3 separate regions of the Homo sapiens genome follow, and all the other regions are reported to be linked to region 2. Evidence: microRNA targets listed by miRTarBase, many of them from high-throughput screens and not tested one by one. Region 2 holds a microRNA gene; each other region holds the end of a gene's coding sequence.
Evidence for each region. Region 2 holds the annotated microRNA hsa-miR-495-5p (GAAGUUGCCCAUGUUAUUUUCG, at 1,076-1,097, opposite strand). A microRNA usually pairs through its seed, bases 2 to 8, with sites in the 3' UTR of a target mRNA and lowers its output. Matches are read on the target gene's strand: a 7mer-m8 pairs with bases 2 to 8, a 7mer-A1 pairs with bases 2 to 7 and ends in A, and an 8mer does both.

Region 1 (3,259 bases), not on the chromosome of region 2:
TCAATTTTGCAAAAATGGCACAACCACAACAGAGTGCAGTGTGATAACAATACAGAGTCAACTAAGATTAAAAATTGGTCTACTAAGACTTTAGATATAATACGTTTTATTCATCTAGTGGTACTTGGTGCTCACAGGGCACTGTACAACAAATTTTAAAAATACAATATGAAAAAAATCAAACAGCCAGAGATCAATTCCATTAGAGGGCGATGGCCCACAGAAAAACCAACAAAGGCCCACAGAAAAACCCACCCTGTCTCCTTAAGAACATTTCTTTGTTTGGCTTTAAGAAACACCAAAAGAAAATACAAAAGAAAAGGTCTTTGAGAAGATAGGTAAAACTTCACATAGCGTCTTCCACATATCACAAAATGCTTTCCTTATTTAATAATAAGCACATAAAATAATCCAAATATCTGTGAGCCTCTATTTGGTCCCAATGTTTTAGGTCATAGCTTTCACTACTTCCCTCCTCTCTATCCTCAAATTATTTGCATCAGTAAAAAAAGTTAATTAAGGTGTAACAGTCTCCTTTGCTCCACAATGCCACTACAAAGCCTATTTTCCATAAAGAACCAGAGGCCAAGCAAACGTAGGCTACTAAGTACTTGAATTGAAAATACAACTAAAATTTCCTGAGTCATTTAACATCAAATTTTGGCTTTGTAATCTATTTGTATTCAATTCTCAGTCATTACTGAAGGTCATTTGACATCAACCATAGAGAGCAGTGAGATTTAAAGTTGCATGGAAGTACCGCTGAAAACTTCTAACAACAGAAAGATGAGTTTGGAGTGTTTAATTTTACTACATAGTGACATATATTCAGAAAGTTGTCATACAAGGAATGATGAGGAGTTACAAATCCAACTTGGAAACCCTTAATGCTCACTATCAATTTGTTGAAAGTCAATTTTTTTTTTTTTTTTGAGACGGAGTCTCTGTCGCCCAGGCTGGAGTGTAGCAGCGCTATCTCGGCTCACTGCAAGCTCCGCCTCCCGGGTTCAAGCCATTCTCCTGCCTCAGCCTCCCTAGTAGCTGGGACTACAGGCGCCCGCCACCACGCCTGGCTAATTTTTGTATTTTTAGTAGACGGGACTTCACCGCGTTAGCCAGGATGGTCTCGATCTCCTGACCTCGTGATCCGCCCGCCTCAGCCTCCCAAAGTGCTGGGATTACAGGCATGAGCCACCACACCCGGCCACAAGCTGTTTCTTAACTAAGCTTCTGAAGCAGGAACTCCTAAAGTGTCAATAGGCAGTTTTACTTACAGTAGTAGTTATATACTAATGCTGCTTGCAGAATTTTTTTTCCCTTTAGAGTTCACAGAAGTACTACCACATGGAGACAAAACAAAACAGTAAAAATAGTATAGGTAGTAAAAAGGCCAAAACTAAGAAATTTGGGGCCATAACATTAGAAAAGTTTGAAAATATACTTTACATATTTGCTTAAAAAATTAAGTGTAGTACTGCCTTAATGCTTGGTTCCTCTACCATTAAATGGCATTTCATTCAGTTTATGCTGAACTCTTAGATCAACTTATTATTACTGAATACAAAGCTAAGCAAACCTAGACATTTTAGCTGCTGCCACTGTGTATTATCACAGTACATAAGGAATCTGTCACAAGGTTTGTCTCCCCTTCTCCATTATACTGTTCTTAAAGGTAGAGGGCAGGTCTCATGCACCTTTGCATCCCCTGCATATAAGCACAGTGGCTGGCATACAGTGGGTGAATAGGTATTTACTGATGCATTGCTGAGTAGTGGCTTATAACATGGAGAAAAGCCCAACATTGTCCTGTTCTATCAGCATTACTTAGGTATCCTCACTCCTAATAGGCAGAAAGCAGTTTTGAAGTAAAGTTAAATTCCTCACTTGCTAAACACAGCAGACCTGTCAAGTGTTGGACAAGACTTAAACCACTTTCTTTAAATGTGTTCATAAAGCATTTTGAGAAATCAAGAGATGAAAGGCGCTATGTAAGTACAAAATATTCAAGACAGTTTAGCAAAAGTGCTACTTTTCTACGATGATGGAATGGTTGTGCTAGTTTGAGGGGAACATCCCCTGAGGCTACTCTTCTTGCTGTCATTATTAACACAACAATGGAATTTTGACAAAGATGCCATCACTTTATATAGTTTTTATTCAGCTAACTACTTTCTATAAACCATGTGACAGAAAATGAAATTAAGCCACTTATTCCACATAAACCAATACTTTATCAAAGTTCCGCATTTTACAAGTCATGTTCAAAAAACACACACAAATTAGCATTTTGTACACAAATGTTTATTTCTCAATTAAACATTCCCTTTAAACACAAGGAATGAGTTCTAAATCTTCATAAAGATGAATTAAAAATGAAATCCCTCCAGTATAGTGTATATAATCACTGTGTTCTTGGTCACTACTGGCATTTACTGTTTAACATCAAAAACAAAGACAGGTTATTTAAAAATCATGCTACTGGATTTCTAGCTCTTCCTCTATGACCAGTTCTACACTGATCTGCAATGTTTAAAAGTTTACATCACCAAATCAAAGCAAGTTTAAGGTGTGAAGTAGCTGTGCATTAAACACAAAATAAACAATAAAATTATAAGATATAGTCAAGTTCATAACGAATATAGGTGTTCTTATCATCGTTGTAGATTCTTGGGTAATGTGCTATGAGAGCGTCCTGGGAACCAATGTAGATGGAGTTGTAAATTTTCCAATATACATCTCTGACTTTCCGGGCTGGGTGAAACAGACCCTAAAATAATTGAACGGTTACATTATTTCAATTTTTAAGAACATACATAACCTTAACAAAATTAAGAAAACATAAAGATATGATTCAAAATTATTTCCCTTGGGGAGTTGGGGGGGGGGGAACCTACTAATTACACTGCTCTTAAGCTGCAATGGAAGAGACAAAACTCACTCCCCTGTCACCACACAATTGTTCTACCATATGGCACAATATACCCTAATGATAATCAGGAAAAGTAACTTAATTCAATACACTACTTTTCTTGCTAAGTAATCTTTTAAAAATCTTTAACTTACAGGCAGTGGGGGGAAAGGGGAGGGAGAGCATTAGGACAAATACCTAATGCATGCAGGGCTTAAAACCTAGATGACAGGTTGATAGGTGCAGCAAACCACCATGGCACATATATACCTATGTAACAAACCTGCACGTTCAGCACAAGTATCCCAGAACTTAAAGTATTATTTAAAAAAAAAAAATCACCGATTAAAA
Region 2 (3,259 bases):
CTGCCGTCAGCCATTGTTCACTGCTCCCGATTTGGGGCAGACACCAATGTCAGACACCATCTCTCTGATGCTGGTGATCAAGGAGCACATCTCTCAGAGGCAGAACTGGCACCTAGAAAGAGTGGGGCGGGGGCTGGGCGCACTGGCTCATGCCTGTAATCCCAGCACTTTGGGAGGCCAAGGTGGGTGTGGATCATGAGGTCAGGAGTTCAAGACCAGCCTGGCCAACATGGTGAAACCCCGTCTCTGCTAAAAATACAAAAAATTAGCTGGGCCTGGTGGCGGGCGCCTGTAATCCCAGCTACTTGGAAGGCTGAGGCAAGAGAATCGCTTGAACCTGGGAGGCAGAGGTTACAGTGAGCCAAGATCGTGCCATTGCACTCCAGCCCAGGAGACAGTGCGAGACTCTGTGTCAAAAAAAAAAGAAAGAAAAAAAGAAAAGAAAAGTAAAGAAAGAGCGGGGCAGGGAGGATTAGGCTCCAGTAAATCACCACTCTGAGAAATCCCATCTCCCAGAACCACAGGGACGCCTTCTGCCACAATTGCTACCCCCAATCAATTCTTCTGTGGAGGTGCGGGTGGCAGTCCCCCAGATGGCATGTCCTCATGTCCCCTTCAGCCATCCCCTCAAGCCTCTGGAGAGAGCGGATGGGGGCAGGGGTCTTCATTGCTTATTTGTTTTTGTTGTTGTGGCAGCTGCTTCCTTTTTTATTTTTTTCTTGGCTGCTATGATCTGAACTCTTCTCAAATGTTGGGGAACGCTTCTCAATGGAGCCTGGAAGTGCATCTCCCCAGCCTCCCTGGCAGCGGGGAACTGGCATGTGGTTGAGGCCTCGCCAACTGTGCCTGTCCGAGAGGTGGGCGTGGACTGAGGACTGAGGACTGAGCATGGTCCCTGAGCCCACCAACACACAAAGTCACCGAGGGGCTGCCAGGACAAATCCTCCATGTACATACCAAGAGAGGTAGTGACACCAGGTCCCATGCTCAGGGTCCCGTCGGGGATGGAGGCACTTCAAGGAGATATTTGATACCGAAAAAGAAGTGCACCATGTTTGTTTCGTCACATATAAAGCGAAAATAACATGGGCAACTTCTTTTCAGGTACCAGAGATGAGCACGTCCTCCCTGCCAGAGGCACACCTGGGCGTGAAGGGACACTGAGGGTCAGGGCGTGAGGGCAGGGCCGGGCAGACGCTGCCAATCAAACTTATGCTCAATTAAGCCTAAAAGCATCAGGTAAGTTGGCTCACCCCAGGGGAGGTGGGGGACATGCTTCGAAGGGCTGGGCTGACACTGAGCAGAGGCGGACAGTCATCACGGATAAAGCAAACCGATCCCAGACTCCCTCTACTTCGGGATCCCAGGAAGTCTTCATGGGCAGAATTCAATAATCAGGGCAGACGGCTTTCGGAATGTTTACTATCAACCCTGCAAATGCTCATGGAGAGCATCACTTCAGAGAAAATGGGATGGTCCTGGACCCAAAAATAGAATCTCCTCCATGAGCCCATGGTTCCAGGAAGGAGATGGGAAGACAAAGATATCGAATCAGGAGAAACAAACCACCAAGGCAGCCCCGGCTCTCGGTGGACCCATCTCTCTGTGCACCTTGCATGGTGCTGACCACTGCACCTCCTCTCTAAAGTGCTCCGGGTTCCCTGGAGGCATGGCTTGGTTCTAAAACACTGACAGTTAAGTGTGAGTTGTGACAAATACAGCCAACCCACAGAGAGCCAAAGGACAGCAGGGGCCAGGAAAGGACAACGGCTTCCCCAAGTCCACATCACTTGCAGGGCAGCCTCCCAGAGAGAGGTGGATTCGAGGGAGAGTGAATCGGGGCAGAAGTTCTGGGGCCCACCATCCATCAGGCCTTCCAGAGAGGACCCAGTGACCCATTGCTGGACACAAAACACGGTAATTGTGCATCATTTGTCAACCATAAATTAAATCACTAAGACAAAGCTTTGAAAGCATAAGTCCATAAGAAAAGTCACCTTCCACCAAAACCCTGCCTTAAATAGGACACTGAAGATAGATAGGCAAACCGTGAGAAACACATCATTGAAAAAAATGCAGGCTTTCCCAGTCACACTGGAAAACACACTGTGGTATCATCTGTTTGTATTGCAAGTAAGATAAGATCTAACTCCAACTGGCTTAAACAAGTAAGGGATTTATAGACGTATATAACTAAAAAGTACAGAGACAGAGCAAGCTTCAGGCAGGGTTTGATCTAGGGACTCAAATGATATCATCCAGGCTCTTCTCTAGGTCTCCAAGATGCCTTTCATGGTACAGACTCCCTCTGCTGTGTCTGCGTGGCACCAAGCCCTCTCCTCTCAGTCCTTAAACGGCTGTGGGACCTTCGAAGCTCACGTCAAAGTTCACTGTCTATTCCCAGCTGAATGGAATAGACAGTGTCTACTCTGGCAGCTATCACAGGAAAGGGAGAAACAGTTTCTTTCCCAGAAGCTGCAGCAAGCATCTCCTTGCCTATCACTGGCCCAGTGGGGTCATGGGCCTATTCCGGAAGCAATTGCAGTGGCAAAGGAGAAGAGATCAAGAGATTCGCTTAAGCCTGGGCTGGTGGAGGAAGTGGGGCAGGGTCAATGCAATCAAAGCACACGGCGGGAAGACGGGAGCTTTCATAAAAAAAAAAAAAAAAAAAAAAAACAAGGAGAAATTTAGGAAGGAGAAAAGACATGGGGTAGGGAGGTCCTGATCAGCGTCCACTACAGGGGCCCATGTGCCTTCCCTGAAGTTGCACCCAAACCAAGACGTCTTCAAGGCAGAATAGGATACTGAAAAAGAAGTGCACCGCGAATGTTTCGTCACAAATAAAGCGAAAAAAACACGGGCAACTTCTCATTAAGTACCGCACGTCAGCACCGTTGACAACACTGCTTCTCCGCGGCTGGTATCACTCCTGCGGGCTTCCTGAGAGCACATGGGTCCTGATGCGCACCGGGCAACCGGTGACAAAGATATGGCCGTGCATACAACCCCCTCAAGACCTGGGAGACATCTAACAGGTCTGCCCCCTCTGCACAGGTGGCATTGTGTCCTGGAGCTGCTTGTGAGCACGATGTGTTCAATTTCTCAATAACAAAAAGTCTCCTCCAGTAGCACAGAATATGACAATGGCACAGAAACAGTGATTTTGCATCCTAAAAGTCCTCCTGAGGATACATGAGGAGGGACCAGGAGAGTCACAATAACTCCCCAGATAAGATGGATGAGATCTACCACCCACCCT
Region 3 (3,259 bases), not on the chromosome of region 2:
AATTTCTTACAAGACCTTGCTTTAATGATTGACATTCTTGAAGAATTTTCAGTACTTTCAACTGCATTACAGTCAAGATCAACTAATATTAAGAAAGCACAAAAATTGATCAAACGTACCATAAGAGCTTTGGAAAATTTAAAAATTGGTACTGGAAAGTATGAATCTCAAATTGAAGATTTGATCAAGTCAGATAAGTTTAAAGATATTCCATTTAATAAAAACAATAAATTTAATGCTCTTCCTAGGAGTATATTACTAGACAATATAATTCAGCACATGAACCTACGCCTTTTATCTGACAGAAACCATGAAGATATTTTTAATTACTTTGATTTGCTGGAACCTTCCACATGGCCTTATGAAGAAATAACTTCACCATGGATAGCTGGTGAAAAAACATTATTTCATTTGTGTAAAATTTTAAAATATGAAGTTGATTTGAATGATTTTCGGGAATTTGTAAATAATAATATAAAATCAAACAATGTTTCAATTCCTACAACTATATACAAAGCTAAAAAGATAGTTAGCACCATTGCAATCAATAGTGCTGAAGCTGAAAGGGGTTTCAATTTAATGAACATAATTTGTACAAGGGTGAGAAATAGTTTAACAATAGATCATGTATCAGATTTAATGACAATAAATTTACTGGGGAAAGAATTAGCAGATTGGGATGCAACACCGTTTGTAAAATCTTGGTCAAATTGCAACCACAGGTTGGCTACAGATACAAGAGTTCGGCAAAAGTCAACAAAAGTCTTCCATGAGAATCAATTGGCTATATGGAACTTAAAATAGAATATTGTATACGTTTTTTGTCATCTGTAAATTATGTACTACACATCCTTTATATACATAAAGGTCTTTTTTTTTTTTGGAAAGCCAGTTAAACTTTTATCAGCATGTTGCTGTTTAAAAGGCGTTCTTTAAGAAGATAATCTTGAAGATTGGTTTTAGAAGCTATAGTTTTTTAGAGATTGGCCCATGTTTGCTAGAGTGGGTCATAATACATATTCCATGAAGTTCTGTACAGAACAAACACCGTTTATAATTTTGTACTGTTTTACTTTAAGTAAGGATGCAAAAAATAGCAGGACTCAGCTAAGTTCTAAGCCCTGGAGGTTATATTAAATAAAAGAGAAATGGAATAAAAACTGTAAGCCTTTTGGCTCTTGTCTTTCTCATTTCCATATCTGTGCTATCTAGTATGGTAGCCACTAGCTACATGTGGCTGATCAGCTTAGGGCTAAAAGTAAAATTTTTATTTATTTACTTTTACTTAAATATGAAAACTGAAACAATGTGAAATATTTTTCTGCTTAGCTTTACTGTTTTTCAGTAATACATTTTACTCTGTTACCTTGCATAAGATATGGTTGTTGTAGTGTGCCTGTCAAACTTGTGTGTCATTTCCAATATTGAATATAAACATATTGCTGATAGATATGATACTGCTGTCAGCAGATGGATTCAATGCAAGTTATTTTTTCTACAAATTGATGTAACATCATGTTTATCTGAATATTTTATGCAGACAACAGGAATTACAGTGATTCCTGTGTAAATTATAACTGGTAATTGAAATACTTATTTTAATCATGATTAAATTATTTTTCTAGTTTACACATGAATATGAGCAAATTTTTAAATTTAAAATGAAGGCATACTGAAAAAGAATCAAGTGGCGATGCAGAACCTAGTACAACTGGAACAGTAAACAGACTCAAAGAAGGTATGTTGCAGATTTGACAATGAATGGCAATTGCAGTTTGCTGTGGCAGAGCAAAACAAGCTGCTATTTAAGAAACAAAGTAGGAAAATTGAGACTTCAGCAGATGCAAAATGAATTGGGTAAATTATATTTCATATGCCAAAAAGAATCAATGAAATTTAGTCACCTAAAATCAGAATTAACAAGAGTTTTTAAAAACAATTTTAGAAGGAACTAAGGTTGTAAGTTTGGCCAGATGTGAAATAGCTGAGATTCTTTTTTTTTTTCCCGAGACAGAGTCTTGTGGTGTCACCCAGGCTGGAGTGCAATGGCGCAATCTTGGCTCACTGCAACCTCCACTTCCTGGGTTCAAGTGATTCTCCTGCCTCAGCCTCCCGAGTAGCTAGGATTACAGGAGTGTGCCACGACGCCTGCCTAATTTTTTTTTTTTGAGACAGAGTCTTGTGTCACCCAGGCTGGAGTACAGTGGTGCAATCTCGGCTCACTGCAACTTCCACCTTCTGGGTTCAAGCAGTTCTCCTGCCTCAGCCTCCCAAGTAGCTGGGATTACAGGTGTCTGCCACCATGCCCAGCTAATTTTTTTGTATTTTTTATAGAGACGGGGTTCCACCTTGTTGGCCAGGCTGGTCTCAAACTCCTGACCTCAGGTGATGCGCCTGCCTCAGCCTCCCAAAGTACTAGGATTACAGGAGTGAGCCACCATGCTCAGCAAAATAGCTGAGATTCTTGCATGAAAGAATTAGGGTTTTTTTTTTTTTTGGATGGGAGAGGGGAGGGTCCTGCTATGTCACCCAAGCTGGACTGCAGTGGCTCACTGCAGCCTCTTCCTCCTGGGCCCAAGCAGTCCTCCCACCTCAGCCCCCTAAGTAGCTGGGAATACAGGTACATGCCACCACACCCAGCTAGTTTTTATATCTTTTTGTAGAGATGGGGTTTTGCCATGTTGCCCAGGTTGGTATTGGACTCCTGGGCTCAAACAGCCTTCCTGCCTTGGCCTCCCAAAGTGCTGGGATTATAGGCATGAACCACCATGCCTGGCTGAGAACTAGTTTTAAATGGATAAATGTGAAATTATTTCAGTTGAAGAAATTGTTAGAAAATTATGAATAAAAGCCTAAATAAGATGTTTTATTAAAAATTACAAGGCCTTGCTGGGTGCTGTGGCTCATGCCTGTAATCCCAGCACTTTGGGAGGCCGAGGCAGGTGGATCATGAGGTTAGGAGATCGAAACCATCCTAGCTAATATGGTGAAACCCCATCTCTACTAAAAATACAAAAAATTAGCTGGGCCTGGTGGCATGCACCTGTAGTCCCAGCTACTCGGGAGGCTAGGGCAGGAGAATCGCTTGAACACAGGAGGCGGAGGTTGCAGTGAGCAGAGATCACACCACTGAACTCCAGCCTGGGCGACAGAGCGAGACTTTGTCTCAGAAAAAAAAAAAAAGTACAAGGCCTTTAGTTAAGCACCAAACAATTGCTATTAGAATATAGGACCTAGCAATATTAAAGATTAATTGATT

Region 1: the mRNA of SF3B1 is a reported target of hsa-miR-495-5p. Seed matches in the 3' UTR shown: 7mer-m8 at 744-750.
Region 3: miRTarBase lists KIAA1586 as a target of hsa-miR-495-5p. The part of its 3' UTR that is shown has no 7-base or 8-base seed match.

The regions. Positions count from the first base shown.
Region 1 is chr2:197,389,695-197,392,953 of GRCh38, forward strand. SF3B1 (splicing factor 3b subunit 1) reads right to left here. Exons shown (of 25, transcript NM_012433.4): 25 at 90-2,767. The coding sequence ends at 2,609. Among named protein-coding and RNA genes, the nearest start is that of SF3B1, 44 kb to the right of the region's middle.
Region 2 is chr14:101,031,606-101,034,864 of GRCh38, reverse strand. It overlaps MIR495 (microRNA 495), which reads right to left and starts at 1,110; the gene lies at 1,029-1,110. It overlaps LOC124903407 (mucin-2-like), which reads right to left. Exons shown (of 5, transcript XM_047432049.1): 5 at 383-3,259. It overlaps MIR543 (microRNA 543), which reads right to left and starts at 2,878; the gene lies at 2,801-2,878.
Region 3 is chr6:57,054,060-57,057,318 of GRCh38, forward strand. KIAA1586 reads left to right here. Exons shown (of 4, transcript NM_020931.4): 4 at 1-1,166. The coding sequence ends at 804. Among named protein-coding and RNA genes, the nearest start is that of KIAA1586, 9.0 kb to the left of the region's middle.